Homo sapiens: one gene and its partners. The protein of the gene in region 3 purifies or fractionates together with the protein of the main gene of each other region. This does not show direct contact. Each region holds a gene or a part of one and is shown on either strand. Other genes may lie near its edges.

Evidence for each region.
Region 1: the proteins of TSPAN12 (region 3) and TMEM59 purify together in Homo sapiens (co-immunoprecipitation; one study listed by IntAct). This does not show direct contact.
Region 2: the proteins of TSPAN12 (region 3) and TNFRSF10B purify together in Homo sapiens (co-immunoprecipitation; one study listed by IntAct). This does not show direct contact.

The regions. Positions count from the first base shown.
Region 1 is NC_000001.11:54,046,705-54,050,204, forward strand, and holds part of TMEM59 (transmembrane protein 59 isoform 2 precursor), read right to left. Parts: intron 669-3,500; coding exon 563-668; intron 1-562.
Region 2 is NC_000008.11:23,062,497-23,066,232, forward strand, and holds part of TNFRSF10B (tumor necrosis factor receptor superfamily member 10B isoform 1 precursor), read right to left. Parts: intron 1-3,736. UniProt on the Homo sapiens protein: Receptor for the cytotoxic ligand TNFSF10/TRAIL. The adapter molecule FADD recruits caspase-8 to the activated receptor.
Region 3 is NC_000007.14:120,837,534-120,841,269, forward strand, and holds part of TSPAN12 (tetraspanin-12), read right to left. Parts: intron 2,577-3,736; coding exon 2,494-2,576; intron 1,380-2,493; coding exon 1,244-1,379; intron 1-1,243. UniProt on the Homo sapiens protein: Regulator of cell surface receptor signal transduction. Plays a central role in retinal vascularization by regulating norrin (NDP) signal transduction.

The DNA of each region.
Region 1 (3,500 bases), on a different chromosome or scaffold from region 3:
ATATTCCATTATAGTTATTTAAAAAGTTAAACGTCAATTGTGTCCTGATTATAGGTTTCTTTTGTTAAACATATTGCTTTCAGCAAAAAGAAAGAAAAGTGGTTTAACAGATGACAAAGCCTCTGGCTACTTATTTTAATGGCCTGACCAATGAATAATATGCTATTAAATACTGAGTCAAAGGCCTGATTCAGTAAAAAACTTGGAGATAAGTCGATGAACTTATGATTGAAAGGTTTAGGAAAATTATACTATCTGTGAAAAGGTAGTAATGAATTGTGAGTAGGGTAATTATACTGCATTTGTCTGACAGAATGCTTGGTTAAACAAAGGTGTCCTATTCATAGCAGAAAATAAACACTGTCTCAACAAACAGATGAAATTTAAAGCCCATGAAATTTCTAGCAGCAGCTACGAAAACTCTTAGATCCATAATAATTACAATATGTTAGATGACTAGTTTCAACAGTGTGTTTTCCATTTCCTAAAGAAAATACTTCAAAAGCTTATCACAAAGAAAACAATGTTACATACAGCTGATGTCGTTAGCATAGCATCTTACCAGATTCACATTCCAATTTAGTTCGATTTAAGTCAATTCCATCATCCACAAACTGACAAATTGAAAACAGCCTGCAACCTCTCTGACATGCGTACAACTCCTCTTCCTAGGGAGTTCAAGAACAGGAAGGGTTACCAAAAAATAGTATTTTTTTTTCCTCAGGGGAAAACAGGTTAGGAAGAAAGCAGTTAGTAAAGTTTATTACAAATCGTCCAGTAAGTTTCATAACTGAAAGAAAAAAATGATAGGAGCCAGTTGATACTCAAGACCTTTGCCATATAGAGGTTTTAGTTCCTTATTTTAAAAGTGATACGAAGAAAAAAGCCTAGTAGGTAAAACCACCACCCTTTTTCCATTTTCTTTGGTTACAATCTGTGGGGGGGAAAAATTAAAAATAAAACTAATAGTGACAGGCCAGGTGCAGTGGCTCACACCTGTAATCCCAGGGCTTTGGGAAGCTGAGGTGGGAGGACTGCTTGAGGCCAACAGTTTGAGGCCAGCCTGGACTATATAGCGAGACCCCATCTGTACCAAAACAAACACACACACAAAAATAACTGGGTATGGTAGTGCACACTTGTTGTCCTAGTACTCAGTAGGCTGAGGTGTGAGGATTGTTTGAGCCCAGGAGTTTGAGGGTACAGTGAGCTATAATCACACCACTGTACTCCAGCTTGGGGTACAAAGTGAGACCCTGTTGCTTAAAAAACAACAACAACAAAAAACACAACGGTGATATAACTAGAACTTTAACAGCGATAGGAGTAAGCAAGTACCCTAGGACCAATGGCATACTTCTGCCACATCCCTGTTTATATGAATCACCAGGCTTATCAGGAAAAGTATCAGACTAGCTTCACATGGCAAATGGTGACACAAGGGCCTGATAAAGTAAGGTATACATCTATAAAAATGTTTATATGAAGGGATTTTTTAAAACTGGGCTTACATTAAATGAAAACACAGGAGCAACAGTGTGGTGTATGGGAAAGGACACTGCAATCAGCCAGACCTAGATCAAACCTTTTGGGTGAGTGCATAAGTTATTTTACCTGTCTAAGAATCTCAGCTTTCTCATCAAAAAAGGAGAGAACAGCCATTATCTCCAAATTCCTCAATAATTTGGAAGCTATTTCCAGTATAGTGCCTGGGATGTAGAAGGTGCTTAATAAATGGTAATAGTGTTAATAGATTTTTAAAATAGAAAACAATTACAGGCATCAATGTATACGTGTGAAAGCTTAAGACAGGATGGACATCTGGTTCTTCATTACTGTAAAATATTAACTGCTTAATAAGACTAATGTCTTCAGCTGTTTTTCTTTGATAAAATAAAAGTATTTAAAAAAAGCTATTGCATATGGGGGAGCCCCCTCGACTTACTATGTGATCCACTGTGTACAAACTGGCAGACACCTAATAAGGAAACAGCATGTGCATATACCAGTTAGCAACCAATGAAATACAAGCTATGTATTTCTTTCCAGCAAAAGGATTAGTAAAATTTACGCAGCAGCAACAATCCATCAAGAAGAGATGCCTGCAGTCTAATATTAAATATACTTTATCATACAACTTTGAAGGTAGCACACTTTTGGACCTCAGTTCCAACTGCATTTACTGTTAAGATGAAATTGAAAGAATTTTAACAATTGAGATAGATTTCATATCTGAGTAGCTGTTGCAGGCTTTGTAAAACAGTTAAAGAATTATTTTATGTCTCTGGAGCACCACATATTTCCTTATATTGCACAAAGGAAGCATAAGCTCATTAGTATGAGCTATACCACATGCCATTTCATTCTCAGATATGCTTTCCTTTAATAAGTCATCCAGTACCAATTTCGGAAAACCATATGGCATGGTGAAAAGAGCCGAGGTTTCAGGAATCGGCCCTGGTTTGAAGCTCAGACTTGCCACTTATTCTGCACAACCTTTGACAAGTTACTTAATCTAATTCCTCAGTTGTAAAATAAGGACAATACTCTTACATCAATCCTAACTACTATTCATTTATTTTCTACTGCCTGTATAATTGCAGAGTGTCAATCTTCACTATTAGGAGAATTATATATTTATATCTACAATAGCATTACTACTATGTAGTACTATCTAATAGACAGACATATTTAATGAGCATCCACAATGTGCCAGGCACTGTATTAAGACTTAACAAATTATGAAACATCTGGTATGGAGCAGGCACTCAACTGGTAGCTATCAAGAATCATATCTTTATTCTAAGTATTTCATGTTATATATACAAAAATAATGATTTCAAGTAAATATTTCATGCCCTATGTATCCCAAATGACTGGCAAGTTTATATAACATGTATCTCCTCTGATTTAGGACACAATAAATAGTGCTTCCACCATATGAAATACCAGCTAAATTCATAATTAGAAGGTCCCTCAATGGTACTATTTAGGCCAGGCACCGTGGCTCATGCATGTAATCCCGACACTTTGGGAGGTCAAGACATAAGGACCCATTCAGCCCAGGAGTTTGAGACCAGCCTAGGCAACACAGCAAGACCCTGTTTCAATTATTTTAAATTAAAAAATAAATAAATAGAAGTTAAGTGATCAGCAAGGACAAACAGTAATCAAGGAGCTGGGAATAAAACCAGGTCTGTATGGTTCTAGAGACCACACTCCATTAAAAAATGACCAGGCTGGCTCTAATTAGCTTTTTTATTAACATGATTTATGTCTCTTGTTTTTTCGACCGAGATAAATTATGCAATTGCACTTCTGTAGATAAAACATAGAATAATTTAAAAATAACTATTTACAAACAGGTATTCTACTTTCTTGCAACAAATAATTAGTTCTCAAAAAGTGTCTGAGATTTCTTTTTTTTTTTTCTTTTTTTGAGATGCAGTCTTGCTCTGTCCCCCAGGCTGGAGTGCAGTGGCACAATCTTGGCTCACTGC
Region 2 (3,736 bases), on a different chromosome or scaffold from region 3:
CGTGAGCCATCACATCCGGCCTCTACTGTTTTTCTATTCTCTGTTTTATTTATTTCTCTTCTAATAATTATTTCCTTTATAATGCTAACTCTAGGTTTGGTTCATTCTTTTTCTAATTCCTACATTTGTAAACTTAGCTCGTTGATTTAAGATCCTTCTTCTTTTTTAATTAAACCATTTCTGGCTATAAATATCATAGATGGAATCAGATACTATATATGCTTTTCTGTCTGGTTTCTTTAACTCAGCATAATTATTTTGAAATTCGGTCATATTTTCATATGCATCAGTACTCCATTCCTTTTCATTACTGAGTTGTATGGCAGAATTAATATGGTAATATTATAAAATGTAGGAGACTTGAAATAATACAGATTGATTCATCTCCACTACTCATTCTTTCTGCTATAGTTGTCTCAGGCATGTTCATATGTTACAAACCCTACAAAGTGTTATATTACTTGATAGTGAATATTTTCAAGAAATTAAGAGGAAATAATCATTCTTTATATGTGCATTCATATTTCTATTCCTGATGATCTTCCTTCTTTCCTTAAGATCCATGTTCCCAGCCAGGCAAGGTGGCTCATGCCTGTAATCCCAGCACTTTGGGAGGCCAAGGCGGTGGATCTCCTGAGGTCAGTAGTTTGAGACTGGCCTGGCCAACATGGTGAAACCCGGTCTCTACTAAAAATACAAAAATTAGCTGGGTGTGGTGGCAAGCGCCTGTAATCCCAGCTGTTCAGGAGGCTGAGGCAGGAGAATCGCTTGAACCCAGGAGGCAGAGGTTGCAGTGAGCCGAGATTGCGCCATTGCACTCCAGCCTGGGCAGCAACAGTGAAACTGTCTCAAAAAAAAAAAAAAAAATCCATGTTTCCATTTCATTTCATCTCTATTCAGATTGAAATCTTTTAGCATTTTGTGTACTGCAGGTCTATGAGCAATGACGTGCCCATACTGTCTCCAATAGCACATTCAGGTTCCTAATTCTTAAAGCCATTTATGCCCATTTACTCTTTCTTATTTGGTAATGACCTCACCCAAGTCTCAGATTAGAAACACTAGAATCCACCACAAACCTCTTTCCTCTTCTTACCAAACCCATTGCATCACCGGCCTGCGTTATCATCATTTCCCTCAGATCTGCCTCAGCTGCCACTTGCCTCCTTCACGATAATGCAACCTGACCCTCACCCTAACCACTAGGACCCATCCCGAATGCTGTCCAGGCCACACCTGAGTGCACCCACCTAGTCCACTCTCCACTGGGTGAACAATGATCTTTAATGGGTGGATCTGATGAGGGATGTCCCCGGGGAAAACTTGACAATGGCCTTGGTGACTCTGGACTTGGGTGATCCTCCGTACTCTATTCAGATCCTCTGTTCTGTCCTCAGCCTGCCTGCCACACTCCCCACCTCTCACGTTTAACACACTCTATGAGCAGGCTGAGGACACAACGTCTGGGTTAGTGCAGCTTCCTAGAATCCACGTTACTCATTCATTCATTCATGGAAGGCATGTAGGCGCCTGGCGACCGCATATGCAAGGAGCCGTGGAGTATCGGGAACATGGCACGGCCCTTCCTTTCCTTAGCACAGTTTCCATTCACAGGAGCTGAGGCACAGCCATCATTAACCCCAAAGTCCATGAACTTGCAAAGAGTCTGGAGGGGCTGCCCAGGCAGAGGTGACAAATGCCATCGGTGGCAGGGACAGTAGTGGACATAGAGGAAAGAGTGCACACAGACAGAATCCCAGACAGACAGGAATCCAGTGTAATGGGGGAGGGGAGTAAAAACAAGAGAGGTACTGCTGAATTAATATTGTAATATGATTACAAAATGTAGGAGAGTTGAAATAATATAGATCCATTCATCACCATTCACTCTTTCTGCTGTGCAGGACGAGGCTGTGCCGTCCGTGGGCCTCTCTGATTGAGGGAGAATGGGCGTGTGGCCAGAGATGCACAGCTGTGTTGGGCCACAGAAATGGGCTCATGGGGGTGTCCATGGGCATGGTTAAGAGAGAGAAGGAAAACAAGAAGAAGGGAGGTCAGGGGTTTGGCTTATTTCAGTTCTTGTCCCATTGAATTCTAGGGACCCTGCCTCCTCCCGGACATGAGCCATTGGCGGGGTTTCCCTGTCTTGTGACTCACCCACCTGTGATTCAGGCTCCTTGCTTTACACCAAGTTTGAGCATAAAACCTGCTAATATTTCTCGTCAAAAATTAACCCGAGTAACCTCTTCTTTCCTCTCTGAGTCACCCACATCCTTAAAACTGCCCAGGATAATCACAGTTCCTGCATAGGTTGTTGTGTGAACTGAAAGTGTTAATATGTATGGAAAGTGCTTAAAACACAGAACTTTAAACACATGCTCTGATTAGTACGATCATTACCCTCAATGTTGATTTTAAGCAAACCATATTATCCTGGCCAAACTACCATGACCTGGAGCCTTGGGACTGCACAGCCTCCCTCTGTCAGTCAAATATGGAGGGATGACATCTCTGGAGCCAGCACAGCCACTCTGGAGGTGGGGGAGGTGACAGTGGTGGGACCTCATGCTTCCTGATAGTTATTTAGGTCCCTGCTGTCACCTGCTCCACCAGACTGTGGGCTCCAGGGAGTAGTCAGTATTCACACAGGGCTCATTTGTCCTTCCCCAACCCAGGCACAGATTTTCCCAGAGTAAAGGGTTCCTCCTCTACCTGATGAATGAATCACTCCTGTCCCCGCCGCCAAGCACATGCAGTGAGACTAGCTGTGGCCTCAGCTCACTGCGTAAGGACAGCCTCCAGCTACAGCAGGGGCAGAGGACCCTGTAGAGCTCTGTAGTCTCTGTTGAGAACCACAGGCAGGAACTCCCAGAGGCCAAGTGCAGGGCAGAGACTGGGAGAAGCAGCTGCCTGGAGGACTCTGGATCCTTGCAGAAGACATGTCCAGTGTCTGCTGAGACTGACTCTAGGTGCCTGAGAAGAAGCCACCCAGGGAAGGAGAGACTAGATTGTGGACCACTCAGGGCTGGGAGATCTGCATGTTCCCCTTCCCACAGTGGACAGAACGCATGCCAGGGTGCTGGCGAGTTACCATCAGAAGTCAACCACTATAACTTTAGTAGTTAACTAAATGAGCCCCTGAATAAGGCAACTGAACACAAGGTATATAGTTATATGTAGATAAAAGCTAGTATCAGAGGAGCAAACTGATCCTCAGTTTTCTGTGACCAGAATAATGCCCAATAGACTTTGAAAGAACACAGTGATGTTCGGTACCCAAGAAAGCAAAATTCACAATGTCAAGCAATAAGAAATTACTATGCATGAAAAAAAAAGTCCCTATGGGCAGGAAAAAAAATGTAATCAACAGAAACAGTGGCCGTAATAACAGATATAATGGTGTTGATAGATTAAATAACTTAAAACAGGTCATCTAAAGCTTACAAATATACTCAAGAATATTTAAAAAACAGAAAAACAAAAAACACCACCACCAAAATCATAGGTTGCGCACGGTGGCTCAGGCCTGTAATCCCAATACTTTGGGAGGACAAGGTGGGAGGATTCCTTGAGCGCAGGAGTTTGAGACCAGCCTGGGCAACATGGTGAAACCCCGTCTCTACTAAAAATACAAAAATTAGCCAGGTGTGGTTGCAAGTGCCTGTGGTCCCAGCTACTTGGGAGGCCGAGGTGGGAGGATCACTTGAGCCCAAGAGGTTGAGGCTGCAGTGAACTC
Region 3 (3,736 bases):
GATTTCTTGACCTCGTGATCTGCCTGCCTCGGCCTCCCAAAGTGCTGGGATTACAGGCGTGAGCCACCTTGCCCGGCCTGAGTGTGCTTTATTTTCTATAGCATTTTGTGTTTTTCAATATTCGACCTGAACAGTTACCCTCCAAGAAGCTAAGTAATACATTAACACAGGTTATACTGTGAAATTCAAAGCTTTAGTTCAACTTCACACTAAGATTCTGTTTTAATTGACTTGGCATGGGAGCCAGTCAAGCACGAGTGTGTGGGAGCTGGCTCCTTGAGCCAATTTGTACTCATCTGTCCCCAGTTCCACATTCAGTGATTTCATGTTGGTAACTTAAAATTGACCATGCTGGGAGAATTTACCCCACGGAAATCCCCAAATGCTACAAATCTGAGCTTTTTTTCTGCCCAGTGATCCAGCTTACCAGCACACCACTCAAATTGTTTAAGTTCTTTATATGAAATTAATACACAGCCAGGGCTGAGACCTACTATAAAAAAAGCGTATACTCAATGAATTAATTTTTCAGCCTTATATGTCTGCAACTATATGTTAGTAATCTCATTACCTGGTGCCACTAGTATATATTTTGCACATTAAGTGCTCTTCTAAAAATATCTATATAAACAGTATTTTAATCAACTCAATTTTTTAATGTTAAAAATGTTTGCCTACTTTTGAATTAAAAGACTAGTCACAGAATTTGAATGGTGAAACTAATTTAAAAAGTACCTAGTGCAACTCTCAGAGTTAAAAAAACAACAACCAAGATTATAGAAACTGAGACTCGCTTATGTTCTCTAAACTATATAAAGGCAGTGACAGGACCATTACATACGTCTGCTACCTCACAACCTGAATTTCCATAGGAGCTTACAGGGTGGATTTGTTTAAAAATAGAAGAGAAAGAAACAGTTCCTTTATGGCTTCTCAGTTCCAGTCCCAAGGGGCCTTTTTGAGTGCTAATAACTACAAGGACACTAGAAAGAACTCATACTTTCAAATGAAAATGTCAACACGTAGCTGGAGTGAAATAATTAAATTGCTTATATATATTTCCATACCTCATCCGGTACAGCAAATATGTGTATTCAAATAATCTCTTGTGAAACGAAAGCGTCCCTTCTTACAGGATGTTGTTACTGCTATCACTGCTCCCTAATCTTGTGAACTGATTAAAAAATAATATATTACTGGTTAATCTTTTTAACTATAATAAAGAGAAAATATAACATCATACCCATGCAAGAAGCAACAGATTTCTTTTCACCGTTCCACAATATCCTAACATCCCCACAATGATAAGGAAACAGCAAACAGCAATCATGACCGGATGAACCACAGGAAAGTAAGTCAAAATGACTGCTTCCTCTACCCTGAAAGAAGAAAAATAATGTATTAGAAAGAAAATATAATCAAAATGCACCCAAGACATAGCAGAAGACACAACTGTGATTTGTGTTAATAATTCTTTCAATCATGATGCCTCAAAACTAGTGACTGCATTGTTATTTTCAAAATCACTGTGCTATTGTTTTTATGTTTATTTGCTCGGTTGCTTTATTTTTGGTTTTGCAGTGTTTGTTTTTTTTAATACAAGTGGTAGCTTTCCTACCCCAACTCATTTAACATATAATATACAGGACCTTGATAAAAGGTCCATCTATTATTATCTCCGAAGCCTTAGCCTAAGTAAATCACATGGGAGCCTTTGCTATTTCCCAGCTGGGAGGAATCTCCTTCCTCTTCTCTAATTTTTGATCCCATGTGCACTACGTTTCTTCTCCCTGACAATTGATCCTCCCCCAAAATGTAAAAGACTGCTATGCAAAGGAAAATCAATCTACATTTAAAGAAAGGAATAGGTAGAAATGATTTTTGCTAGAACACGATGAAAAATTCATTAACCGAAACCAGTATTAATGATAAAAATTAACCATTATTAAGCTAACTTTCCCTGTGTTAAGGACTTGAAAAAAATGGTTTTCATTTAATCCTTACCACAATTCAGATGTCATATAATACAATCTCCATTCAGAGATGATGGAGTAAAAAGTAATTTGTCCCCTGTGATGTTAGTAGATTAACCCTTGAAATTTGAGAAAAAAAAATCATTGTGGTGTATGGTTTTCATTAACCCAAGAATATGAAGGTAAGAGGAAGCTGACGGTAATTTTCTTAGGGAAAAGTAACTATGCTGGTTCTTTACACGCACCTATGACATGGCTGATGCACAATCAGGAGGACAGGCAACTGCTATTACCATACCCAGAAATGTCTGTATAAACATGCTGCCACCTGATCCCCTGCTAGGACCAGAGGCGCACCTTAAGGAGAATTCTGGAGGATGCAAGTGTCTGTGACAAAGGTTGCTATGGGCAGGAAAAACTTTTCCAAAAGATCAAGGAAGAGCACTACCATATAAATAGCTGAGGGCAAAGTTACTTAAAATCAGCAAGAAAGAATTCAATCAATAATTATAAAGTATACCTCGTTTCTGCAGTTAAAGTGAGAACATTATTTAGGTAGTCCCTCATCCAAGCAGAAACTGCCAACACACTGATGGACATTAACTGGGGAGAAAAAAGTACAAACCGGTTACCAAAGATTTACGTAACATTCACTGCAGGATTAATAATAGGAAAATTAAGGATTTTGTTACATAATATCTTTCCCAATTACCATTTGCTGCATCTTGAAATTTACTATTACTATAAATAACTGCCATTCCATTTTGTAATCATGTCCTAGGCACCAAATGGAATACCACCCAAATGGGATACAGAAAACAAAACTATTAAGTGGCTGATCCCAGGTTCAGGACAGAAACTGCACAAGATAAGGAGGCCACAGAACAAATAAATTATCAAACATATAAGATGTGTCTAAAACACATTGTCATTCTTAAAGGCAAGGAAGCAATTAAATACTATTACTGAACAATTAAATATTGTCAAAAAAAGTCACAAGTTAATTTAAAACGACTTCTATTGGCTAAAATTCAAATAATTTAAGCATTAAAATGATAGTAATAGTAATAACATTAAATGTAATCCTTTGATTCATAAAGCGCTAAAGTATATAAACTCATACACATATATGTGCTAAAGTATATAAACTCATAATGAACAAAATTCTCTGGTCTTTGTAGAAAGTTGAATACTCAACTCATTATTCAGAAAACTGACAAGAATCTATCATTTCTCTTTATCCTACTTTTCCTGTACAAACTAAAGGAAGAACAAAGGACTTGATTAAACTTTTTATGGAAGAATTTCTGTAATATTTGCAGGAAGCATTCTAGAGCATCACCATTTAACAACCTTTTCTCAAATAATGGATCTCTAGAAAAAAGATCCTCAATGGCTGCAATTTTATCAGGTCATTGGTTCTCAATCCTGTCTGTACATTTGAATCATTTAAGGCTCAAAAAAATTACTGAACACAGGTTTATCCTGGACTAATTCTAGGGAGTAGGGCTTGGGCATCAGAAATGTGTAGCAACTTCACAGATTCTAACAGGCAGACAGGGCTGAGAACCACTGCATTAAATGAAAGGCTGGTGGGAAGTCAGAATAGAGAAAGTAGGCAGATGATCCAGACCACACTGGTCACTCCTAGTGTCACAAAAAGAGACAATTACACATAATGTGTCTCCCAACATGGTACGGTCAGAAGCACACAGAAATTCCTATGAAGTATTTTCACCAGAAGGTCAAACTTGAATCAAATC